Linked DNA regions of Homo sapiens. The protein of the gene in region 1 purifies or fractionates together with the protein of each later gene. This does not show direct contact. Each region holds a gene or a part of one and is shown in the gene's direction. Other genes may lie near its edges. The genes, in order: IL4I1, GLG1 and CAP1.

What was found.
Region 2: the proteins of IL4I1 (region 1) and GLG1 purify together in Homo sapiens (affinity purification with mass spectrometry, with the first as the bait; one large-scale study listed by BioGRID). This does not show direct contact.
Region 3: the proteins of IL4I1 (region 1) and CAP1 purify together in Homo sapiens (affinity purification with mass spectrometry, with the first as the bait; one large-scale study listed by BioGRID). This does not show direct contact.

The regions. Positions count from the first base shown.
Region 1 is NC_000019.10:49,893,958-49,898,400, reverse strand, and holds the start of IL4I1 (L-amino-acid oxidase isoform 1 precursor), read left to right. Parts: upstream 1-1,513; 5' UTR 1,514-1,566; intron 1,567-2,218; 5' UTR 2,219-2,240; coding exon 2,241-2,253; intron 2,254-2,347; coding exon 2,348-2,586; intron 2,587-3,220; coding exon 3,221-3,333; intron 3,334-3,931; coding exon 3,932-4,133; intron 4,134-4,443.
Region 2 is NC_000016.10:74,597,036-74,600,681, reverse strand, and holds part of GLG1 (Golgi apparatus protein 1 isoform 3 precursor), read left to right. Parts: intron 1-3,646. UniProt on the Homo sapiens protein: Binds fibroblast growth factor and E-selectin (cell-adhesion lectin on endothelial cells mediating the binding of neutrophils).
Region 3 is NC_000001.11:40,043,629-40,047,274, forward strand, and holds part of CAP1 (adenylyl cyclase-associated protein 1), read left to right. Parts: intron 1-3,646. UniProt on the Homo sapiens protein: Directly regulates filament dynamics and has been implicated in a number of complex developmental and morphological processes, including mRNA localization and the establishment of cell polarity.

The DNA.
Region 1 (4,443 bases):
TCCCAAAGTGCTAGGATTACAGCAGTGAGCCTCCGCACCCGGCCCTCATTACTATTTTTTATTTTTATTTTTTATTTTTTGAGATGGAGTCTGGCTCTGTCACCCAGGCTAGAGTGCAGTGGCACGATCTCAGCTCACTGCAACCTCCACCTCTTGGGTTCAAGCAATTCTCCTGTCCCAGCCTCCTGAGTAGTTGGGACTACAGGCGTATGCCACCATGCCCGGCTAATTTTTATATTTTTAGTAGAGACGAGGTTTTGCCATGTTGGCCAGGCTGGTCTTGAACTCCTGACATCAGGTGATCCGCCTGCCTCGACCTCCCAAAGTGCTGGGATTATAGGCGTGAGCCACCCCTGGCCCTCGTCACTATTTTTGCTGACCCAAGCTCTTTCGGTCCCTGAACTCTCCAGCTCTTTGATCATTTCCCTTTGCCACGGCCTCCCGCCCCTGCGTCACATGCCTTGTTACTCACATTCACCCCCCAGCCCCTCCCGGCCATAACCGCATCCCTCTTTGATTTACTGCGGGAGTTTCCCATCTTCCTTCTTGTTAATGCCCTCCAACCCCCACCCAACCCTTGCTGCAGAGAATCTGCCTCCCTCTGGTTTTCCTCCTCACGGAGCCCCTGGCTCCCTCTCCCCCACCCCAAGGAAAGTCCCTGCTATTGTTTCTCCACCCCCACCCACTCCAAGGTGCCGCCCCACTCCCTGCCCTGAGCACTGAGGTGGTTCTTAAAGCAGGGATGGGTGAAGCCTGGGCGCTTCCCTCTGCCGGGTGGTCACTCATAGAACCCCTGAGTGCCCCTGCGGCCACAGCAGCTGGCATTTCCAAAGGAGCAGCTTCCAGTACTACCCCAGGTTCCGGCCACAGAACTTAACCTGGATTCACTCACTTGATCCTAAAACACTGTGACGTCTGTAGACGTCATTTGACAGCTGTAGACGAGAGCCACAGAGGGGAGGGCGGGCTCAGAGCCCACGTCCTGACCCCGGGACCACGGCTGCCAGCCCCACTGCTACACCCATGTAACGGAGGGGGAGACTGAGGCTCTGGGTGGCAAGTGGAGAGGGAAGTGGAACCATGGGGGGCCCTGCAGGACATGGCGACACCTGACGGAGAGGGACTTGGAGGGGAAAGTTGGCCTGGCCCAGGGACCTGTAGCCCCTCTGTCCCCGTGGGAATCAAGGAGGCAGAGAGAGTGCAGGGGAGGATAGAAACAAGTGGCCTGGTGATCAGGGACGGGGGCAAACCGAAGGGGATTCCCCGTTGTTGGCACGGTTACCTGAGCATCTATTTCTGGCCTCCAAACCACCCCAGAACTATCTGGGGCAAAAGGAAGTGAATAGACTGATTAACTTCCTCCAACCCCCTTTCTCCAACCTCAACTAGACTCTGAGCATTGGACCAGAGCAGCTCCAGGAAACCAGTTTCATTTCCCTCGGCCAGTTTCCCAAAAGGAGGGGTGGGCGGGGCTCTGCCAGTTTAAGGGGAGAGAAAGGGCCACAGCAGAGACAGTGGAGGGCAGTGGAGAGGACCGCGCTGTCCTGCTGTCACCAAGAGCTGGAGGTAGTGACACGGCCAGTGGTGGGGGGACAGAGAGACAGGACCCACAGAAATAGGGACTGAGAAGCAGTCAGGAGCTGGGGAGATGAGGAAGAGGGAAAAGAGGCCGGGCGCGGGGGCTCATGCCTGGAATCCCAGCACTTTGGGAGGCCGAGGTGGGTGGATCACCTAAGGTCAGGAGTTCGAGACCAGCCTGGCCAACATGGCGAAACCCCGTCTCTACTAAAAATACAAAAATTAGCCAGGTTTGGTTATGGGTGTCTGTAATCCCAGTTACTTGGGAGGCTGAAGTGGGAGGATTCTTGAACCTGGGAGGCGGAGGTTGCAGTGAGCCAAGATCTTACCACTGCACTCCAGCCTGGATGGCAGAGAAAGACTGTTAAAAAAAAAAGAAAGAAAGGAAAGAAAGAGGGAAAAGAAGAGAAAGAGACAGGAACCCGAGAGAGCTGTGGCAGAGGTGGAGACCGGTGAGGAGGGAGGCAGGGACGGTCCAGGGGACTCTGAAGGAATGGGGTTAGGGGACACAGGTCCAGAGAGCAGGACAGTGACTGGGGGAGGGCCGGCTCTAGCAGCTGGGCAGCCCATGGGAGACAGAGTCAGGCTACAGTGGTCACAGGCCTCAGTCACAACAGCCCTCCCTTCTCCTCCACCCCAGACACCATCTCCCACCGAGAGTCATGGCCCCATTGGGTGAGTAAGCAGGGGAGGGGCTCTGGAACAAGTGAGTAGAACCCCTCTCCCCCGACCTGCCACAACCCCGTTGACCCTGTCCTCCTCCTCCCAGCCCTGCACCTCCTCGTCCTCGTCCCCATCCTCCTCAGCCTGGTGGCCTCCCAGGACTGGAAGGCTGAACGCAGCCAAGACCCCTTCGAGAAATGCATGCAGGATCCTGACTATGAGCAGCTGCTCAAGGTGGTGACCTGGGGGCTCAATCGGACCCTGAAGCCCCAGAGGGTGATTGTGGTTGGCGCTGGTGTGGCCGGGCTGGTGGCCGCCAAGGTGCTCAGCGATGCTGGACACAAGGTGGGAAGCACTGCTTGCAGTCTACCTGGAGTCCCTCCTGCTGCAGGCTGGAGTCCCTGGGCACAGGGACACGGCCGCGTTCCTCCTTGAGGGGGTGGAGGTGGGGATGTGGGGGGAGAGGCTATCTTTCCCTGTAGTCTGGGGGTGAGGCCCAAGCCCCCTGCTGTCACATGTCTCCACTGAGAGGCCCCAGACTTTCCTGTCCCACGTTTTTCATCCCAGAGGGAAGTCTCACTGGCTCAAAGCTCCTCTGTCCTGGGGTGGGGCGCCTGTTGGTGGAGAGGGAAACTCTACCAAGGGGATGTGTGCCCTGAGGTCTAACCACTGACCTACTCACTGCAATCCGAGAATGAGAATGGGCCAGCCCAGGGGCTTCTACGCATATGGGTCATCTCCGAACTCCCCGAGCTGGGAAGTCCCTTTGCAGTCTAGCTGGCAGCCTTCCTCCTGCAGTCTGGAACTGCTCACTCAGTTCTGTTCCCCCACCTCCATACAGAAGGGGACCCTCTCCTAGTCTGGGTCTGGGCCACTGTGGGGATGGAAGAAGGCAGGGGGCTGGCACGGGGTGGTAGAGGGCAGGGGATGGTCAGTGGGTGGAGCTGAAGGGCCCTCCTCGCCCCACGGACTCCCTCAGGTCACCATCCTGGAGGCAGATAACAGGATCGGGGGCCGCATCTTCACCTACCGGGACCAGAACACGGGCTGGATTGGGGAGCTGGGAGCCATGCGCATGCCCAGCTCTCACAGGTGACCTAGCAACCCACCCACCTGTGTGCCTAGACTCAACTAGCCCCCCAGCTCCATGCCCACACCAGAGTGGGCCCGAACTTCCACTCTGACTCCCAAACCCAGCCTCCAACCCCATCCTTCGCCTAATCCTCACCTCAGTCTTGCCTCCAGCGCCAGCCCTGGGCCTCTGGCAACACTCGGGCCACCTGGTCCAACCAGACCTCCAGCTGGCCCTGCCTGGTGCAAAAGCCAGCTCCTGTGCTGGCCCCTCCAGGCCTGCAGCTCCACCATCCCCACACCCTCAGGCACCCCAGCCCCAGGCCCCTTCTTCATCTCAAACCCCCGTCCAACCCAAACTCTGTCCCCCTTCCCAATTCTAATCTGGGCTCTATCCCACTCTTAACCCAATCCTAATCCTGGTACTGCCCTGAGGCCTCCAGCCTTGTCCCCATTTCATTCCCATCCCCCAGCATTGATTACCCCAAATCTAGCCCCACCCCCAGCCTCATGCTGGTCCCCAGCTACTCTCCCCTCCCACCCCTCTTCTCCAAGTCCCACTAGGGACCAGGCCACCCCCACTGGAGCCCGGCCCTCACTCACCCACTCCCCTGATCAGGATCCTCCACAAGCTCTGCCAGGGCCTGGGGCTCAACCTGACCAAGTTCACCCAGTACGACAAGAACACGTGGACGGAGGTGCACGAAGTGAAGCTGCGCAACTATGTGGTGGAGAAGGTGCCCGAGAAGCTGGGCTACGCCTTGCGTCCCCAGGAAAAGGGCCACTCGCCCGAAGACATCTACCAGATGGCTCTCAACCAGGTGGGTACCGCCTGCACCCTCCTCCCGCCCTGACTTCTCTGTCCTCCTCCTAAGCTCGCCCCGGCCCGGCTTTTCTTCTCTCTGGCATCCCTTCAGTCCCCTCCATGGGGTGGGGCGCCTGTTGGTGGAGATGGAAATTCTACCAAGGGGATGTGTGCCATGAGGTCTAACCACTGACCTACTCACTGAAATCCGAGAATGAGAATGGGCCAGCCCAGGGGCTTCTACACATATGGGTCATCTCTCAACTCCCTTCTTTTTTTTTTTTTTTTTTTTTTTTTTGAGATGGAGTCTTACTCTGTCACCCAGG
Region 2 (3,646 bases), on another chromosome or scaffold:
TGGCTCACTGCAACCTCTGCCTCCTGGGTTCAAGTGATTTTTCTGCCTCAGCCTCCCGAGTAGCTGGGACTGCAGACATGCGCTACCACACCCGGCTAATTTTTGTATTTTTAGTAAAACGGGGGTTTCGCCACACTGGCCAGGCTGGTCTTGAACCTCTGACCTCAAGTGATCTGCCTGTCTTGGCCTCCCAAAGTGCTAGGATTACAGGTGTAAACCAGTGCACCCGGCCTCTTTTCTTAAGCAAGGACTGTCTACTTTAGCTTTGTCCTTGTTCTTTTTTTTCTTTGAAAGTCTTACTCTATCTCCCAGGCTGGCTGGAGTGCAGTGGCATGATCATGGCTCACTGCAACCTCAAACTCCTGGGCTCAAGCTCTCCTCCCACTTCAGCCTCCCGAGTAGCTGGGACTATAGGTACACAACACCACTTAGCCTTGTTCTAAGCGGAAATATACGTGAACTCATGAATTTGATGTGGTAGGTATACTTCTCTAATATATATGAAACTAAATATATGACTATAAAATATAAGTACCAACACATACCACCTGAAATCATCTTGCATATTACCAATAGCACATGCTTCAGAAAGCACTAACACTGGATTATCTTTCTCTGTTGTTTTTTTGTTTTGTTTTGCTTTTGGTTAAGACGGAGTCTCGCACTGTCACCCAGGCTGGAGTGCAGTGGCGCGATCTCACCTCACTGCAACCTTTGTCTCCTGTATTCAAGCGATTCTCCTGGCTCCACCTCTCTAGTAGCAGGGATTACAGGCACCAGCCACCATGCCTGGCTAATTTTTTTTTTGTTTTTTTTTTGAGACAGAGTCTAGCTCTGTCACCCAGGCTGGAGTGCAGTGGCGCGATCTCGGCTCACTGCAAGCTCTACCTCCCGGGTTCACGCCATTCTCCTGCCTCAGCCTCCCGAGTAGCTGGGACTACAGGCGCCCACCACCATGCCCGGCTAATTTTTTGCATTTTTAGTAGAGACGGGGTTTCACCATGTTGGCCAGGATGGTCTCGATCTCCTGACCTCGTGATCTGCCCACCTCGGCCTCCGAAAGTGCTGAGATGACAGGCGTGAGCCACTGTGTCCGGCCGAGGCTTGGCTAATTTTTGTATTTTTAGTAGAGACGGGTTTTCACCATGTTGGCCAGGCTGGTCTTGAACTCCTGACCTCAGGTAATCCCACCCGCCTTGGCCTCCCAAAGTGGTGGGATTACAGGCGTGAGCCACCGCTCCTGGCCTTGGATTATCTCTTAAGATTCTTCCAGCTCCGGTGCTTTGTGATTTTGTGATCTGTGGGAATACAAAACGTGTGCAAGAGAGTCGTAGCACAGGTGGAAAGGGGAGATGCTTTGGGGAATTATTAAAGGGGCTGTATTGACCGAAATAGAGAACTTGAAAATGTTTTCAGTCCAGGTCATGAAGGGTCGTATATTCACCTCTAGCTGGTTCTCCAAGTAAAGTCCAGAAATGGGATGTTTTTATCCCTACCTCAGATAAAAATATTACAGCAGATAATTGAGAATTACCTGTAAAGTAGCATTGTCGTTTATGGCAAATACTTTTTAAGAAATCTCTTGATGAGAATGCTTTACAGTATATAGTTGCTTAATAATTCATTGTTCTGTAGAAGGAAATAAAATACTTGAACAGTCCAAAAGATGAAATGCTGTATTTCTCTTTTGTGCATTTCTCCTAATGTGTTCAAAACAAATTTACTCAGGAACAATAACAAAAATCTCCTCTTTATATAAGTTATATATATATATATTTATATATTTGTTGTTGTTGTTTTGAGGTGGAGTTTCGCTCTTGCTCAGGCTGGAGTGAAGTGGAATGATCTCGACTCACTGCAACCTCCACCTCTCGGGTTCAAGCCATTCTCCTGCCTCAGCCTCCCGAGTAGCTGGGATTATAGGCACTTGCCAGCACACCCGGCTAATTTTTGTAGAGACGAGGTTTCACCATGTTGACCAGGGTGGTCTCAAACTCCTGACCTCAGGCAATCCACCCACCTCAGTCTCCCAAAGTGTTGGGATTACAGACGTGAGCCACCGCGCCCGGCCTTATTTATATATTTTTAAAAGCAGCAGTTAAAATGGCTTATAGGCTATCATGTAAATTAATTTTTCTTCTTTCTTTTTTCTTTTTTTTTTTGAGATGGAGTCTCATTCTGTCACCAAGCTAGAGTGCAGTGGCGCGATCTCGGCTCACTGCAACCTCCACCTCCTGGGTTCAAGTGATTCTCCTTCCTCAGCCTCCCGAGTAGCTGGGACTACAGGCGCCCGCCACCACGCCCGGCTAATTTTTTGTATTTTTAGTAGAGACGGGGTTTCACCATGTTGGCCAGGATGGTCTTGATCTCTTGACCTCGTGATCCGCCCGCCTTGGCCTCCCAAAGTGCTGGGATTACAGGCGTGAGCCACCGCGCCCGACCAATTTTTCTTCTTTCAGCAAACATTTATTGAAACCTGTGTGCAAGACACTGCTCAGTGTTCAAGTATACTACTGCTACTTATAATGGTTAGCATTTACTGAGGGTTTTCTGTGTGCCCTGTTCTGAGGGACTGGATGCTTTCTAGGCGTTATCTCATTTAATCTTATGAGAGATGTTTTATTATTATCATTCTTATTGATTTTGTTTGTTTGATTTTGTTTTCGAGACAGAGTCTTGCTCTTGACGCCCAGGCTGGAGTGCAGTGGTGTGATCTCAGCTCACTGTAATCTCTGGCTCCCGGGTTCAAGCGATTCTCCTGCCTCAGCCTCATGAGTAGCTAGGACTACAGGTACACACCACCATGTCCAGCTTTTTTTTTTTTTTTTTTGAGGCAGTCTCACTTTGTCACCCAGGCTGGAGTGCAGTGGTGCGATCTCAGCTCACTGCAAGCTCCACCTCCCGGGTTCACGCCATTCTCCTGCTTCAGCCTCCCGAGTAGCTGGGACTACAGGCGCCCGCCACCATGCCCGGCTAATTTTTTGTATTTTTTAGTAGAGATGGGATTTCACTGTGTTAGTCAGGATGGTCTCAATCTCCTGACCTCGTTATCCGCCAGCTTCGGCCTCCCAAAGTGTTGGGATTACAGGCGTGAGCCACTGCGCCCGGCTAATTTTTGTTTTTTTAGTAGAGGCAGGATTTCGCCATGTTGGCTATGCTGGTCTTGAACTCCTGACCTCAGGTGATCTGCTTGCACCACCATCTATCACCGGAGCTTTTTTTTTCTTTTTTCTTTCTTTTTTTTTTTTTTTGAGATGGAGTCTCACTCTGTCATCCAGGCTGGAGGGCAGTGGCATGATGTCAGCTCACTGCAACCTCAGCCTCCCTGGTTCAAGCGATTCTCCTGCCTCAGCCTCCTGAGTAGCTGGGACTATAGGCGCACCCCACCACGCCCAGGTAATTTTTGTATTTTTACTAGAGACGGGGTTTCGCCATGTTGGACATGCTGGTCTTGATCTCTTGACCTGGTGATCCTCCCGCCTCGGCCTCCCAAAGTGCTGGGATTACAGGCGTGAGCCACTGTGCCTGGTGAGTTTTGTTTTGGGTTTTTTTTTTGTTTGTTTGAGACGAGGTCTCACTCTCTTGCCCAGGCTGCAGTGCAGTGGCATGATCATGATTCACTGCAGCCTCTGCCTCCCGAGCACGA
Region 3 (3,646 bases), on another chromosome or scaffold:
CACTTTGGGAGGCTGAGGTGGGCAAATCACTTGAGATCAGGAGTTCAAGACCATCCTAGCCAACATGGTGAAACACCATCACTACTAAAAATACAAAAATTAGCTGGGCGTGGTTGTGCATGCCTGTAGTCCCAGCTACTTGGGAGGCTGAGGCAGGAGACTCGCTTGAACCCGGGAGGCGGAGGTTGCAGTGAGCTGAGATTGCACTGCTGCACTCCAGCCTGGGTGATAGTGAGACTCTGTCTCAAAAAAAAAAGAAAAGAAAAAAGAAATTTCTCGCTTTTTCCAGAAATACTTCCTCAATTGGGTAGGCATAATTGATATCTCAGAGAAGTTTAAATAAAATGGTAGCAGCAAAAGTACTTTGTAGAATACAGCCTGATGTGCAAACCAAAAGTGGTGATATTGTTAAGATTCAGTGAGTATATTTTTGCTTTGGAGTTTAGCTATTGAGTCTGTAAAATGTTTTGTTTCCAACCTAGGGATGATCTTTTATTCTCACCCTTTTTCCTGGTTGCAGTTATTTTTTTAGCTTTTAAAAAGTGACTTTCTTGAGGCTGAGTTAGAGACTAGCCTGGTCAACATAGTGAGACCCCTGTCTCTACCAGAAAAAAAAAAGGTGACTTCCTCCTTTCAGTTTTTTGTGAAGCATTGTGAATCAAATTTTTTTTTACTTAAGCAAATGCAATGTGTCACTGGAAGCCGAACCTCTGGTTTGAAATTTAATGCTGAGATTTGAAATATGAGAGTTCTCGAGCGGTATCTTACCCAATTTTAGTGATTATTACTTTGAAATGTTGACATCAGTTTCTTTCTTTATTTGTGCTAACCTGGCTTTCATGACCTATACTTCAGTTTCTCTATGACAACCAGACAAATCTTTTTAAAGTTCTCTAAGAAGAAGCATTTTTCATCTTGTTAGTCTTCACTGACTTCATATTTACAAAGAATAAATTCTGAACTCTTTTTTCCATCTTACAGAATTCTCTACAGTTTAGACCCTTATCTTAATTTTTATTAGATGATACAGGTTGACTTTCTAATTTAGAAAGTCGTGAACTAGCATTTTACTTAACCTTTTGCACCTCCCTATGCTCCTTATTAAATTAGAACAGGGTTTCTCAACGTTGGCACAATTGACATTTTGGGCCATATAATTCTTTTTTTTTTTTTTTTTTTTTTTTTTGAGACAGAGTCTCTATCTGTCACCCAGGCTGGAGTGCAGTGGCACAATCTCGGCTCACTGCAAGCTCAGCCTCCCGGGTTCACGCCATTCACCTGCTTCAGCCTCCCGAGTAGCTGGGACTACAGGCGCCCGCCACCAGGCCCAGCTAATTTTTTGTATTTTTAGTATAGACGGGGTTTCACTGTGGTCTTGATCTCCTGATCTCGTGATCTGCTCGCCTCGGCCTCCCAAGGTGCTGGGATTACAGGTGTGAGCCACCGCGCCTGGCCATATAATTCTTTATTATGGAGTTGTCCTGTGCACTGTGGGATGTTAAGCAGCATCTGTCTCTACCCAGTAGATGCCAATAAGACTTCCTCAGTTGTGACAACCAAAAATGTCTTCAGACATTGCCATATGTCTCCTGGAGGACAAAATTGCCCCTGGTTGAGAATTGCTGCGTTAGAAAGTATCGTAGCTATGATTGTACAATGTCCCCAACTAAATTCTGTGAGGGCAGGCCCCATAGCCATACTTAGCACAGTCGATGGTACATGATAAGCACTCAGTATCCTACAATGAATGAATCATTTGTTTCTGTTGAAGCTTCAAGAAATTACTGTTCCTTCAAGGAATTTCTGGGTGGGCAGGTTGGAGTACAATGGTGCAATCATGGCTGATTGCAACCTCCAACTTTTGGGCTCAAGTAATCTTCTCGCTTCAGCCTCCTGAGTAGCTGGGACTACAGTTCTTTTTCTTTCTTTTGTTTTTTGTTTTTTTGAGATGGAGTTTTGCTCGGTCGCCCAGGCTGGAGTGCAGTGGCGTGATCTTGGCTCACTGCAACCTCCCCCTCCCGGGTTCAAGCAGTTCTCCTGCCTCAGCCTCCTGAGTAGCTGGGACTAGAGGCACACACCACCACACTCAGCTAATTTTTGTATTTTTAGTAGGGACAGGGTTTTGCCATGTTGGCCAGGCTGGTCTCGAACTCCTCAAGGGAACCACCCACCTCAGCCTCTCAAAGTGCTGGGATTACAGGCATGAGCCACCATGCGCTCGGCCAAATGTTTGATTTTTTTCAGAGACAGGGTCTTGCTATGTTGCCTGGGCTGGTCTTAAACCCCTGGCCTCAGGTGATTCTCTGGCCTCAGTCTCCTGAGTCACTGGGATTACAGGCATGAGCCACCACACCTGGCAGATGTGATCTTAAGAGAAGTGCCATTGGTTTGAGTACTAGAAGCAAGCTTCTTGTTGATGGTGTAAGTCAGCAGATTTCCCTCTCTATTGAAAATTGTGTGAATTCCTGTTTTGTTTGTGTTCCTTGTATTTAGAGTGCTTGGTTTTAGTGGACAGGGACTATCATTTATTTTAAAGTTGCATATAGGCTGGGCGTGGTGATTCACGCCTGTAATCCCAGCATTTTGGGAGGCCAAGGCGGGTGGATCACCTGAGGTCAGGAGTTCGAGACCAGCCTGGCCAACATGGTAAAACCCCGTCCCTACTAAAATTACAAAAATTTGCTGGGTGTGGTGGCATGTACCGTAATCCCAACTACTAGGGAGGCTGAGGCAGGAGAATCACTTGAACCCGGGGAGGTGGAGGTTGCAGTGAGCTAAGATCGTGCCACTGCATGATCTGCGCCAGCTTGGGTGACAGAGCAAGACTCCGTCTCAAAAAAACAAAACAAAACAAAAAAAAACAAACAAACACTAAAGTTGCATATAGTTTATGGAGTTATTCACATTTATTTTAGTTGATAAAATTATACAGTCATGTGTTGCTTAATGACAGGTACATTCTGAGAAATTTGTCATTAGGTGATTTCATCATTGTGGGAACATCATAGAGTGTACTTGCACAAATTTAGATGATACTGCACATGGTGTAACTTATTACTCCTGGGCTACAAACCTGTATAGTATGTTACTGTATCTAATACTGTAGGCAGTTTGTAACACAGTGTAAGTATTTGTTTATTTAAACTTTTTTTTTTTTTTTTTGAGACGGAGTCTCACTCTGTCGCCCAGGCTGGAGTGCAGTGGCACGATCTTGGCTCACTGCAACCCCCGCCTCCTGGGTTCAAGCAATTCTTCTGCCTCAGCCTCCTGAGTAGCTGGTACTACAGGTGCGCACCACCACGCCCAGCTAATTTTTGTATTTTTAGTAGAGATGGGGTTTAACTATATTGGCCAGGCTGGTCTCAAACTCCTGACCTTGTGTTCTGCTAGCCTTGGCCTCCCAAAGTGCTGGGATTACAGGCATGAGCCATCGCGCCCGGCCACATTTTTAAAGTACAGTAAAAATAGGGTATTATAATCTTATGGGATTTTGTGTTGATTAATCCCCATATAATCCCATATAATCTTATGGGACCACTGTTGATTTTGTGGTCCATCCATTGACCAAAATGTCATTATGTAATGCATGACTGTAGTTTCATAATTTTAAATTAATGCAGCTACAGCATTCACCATGAAATTATTT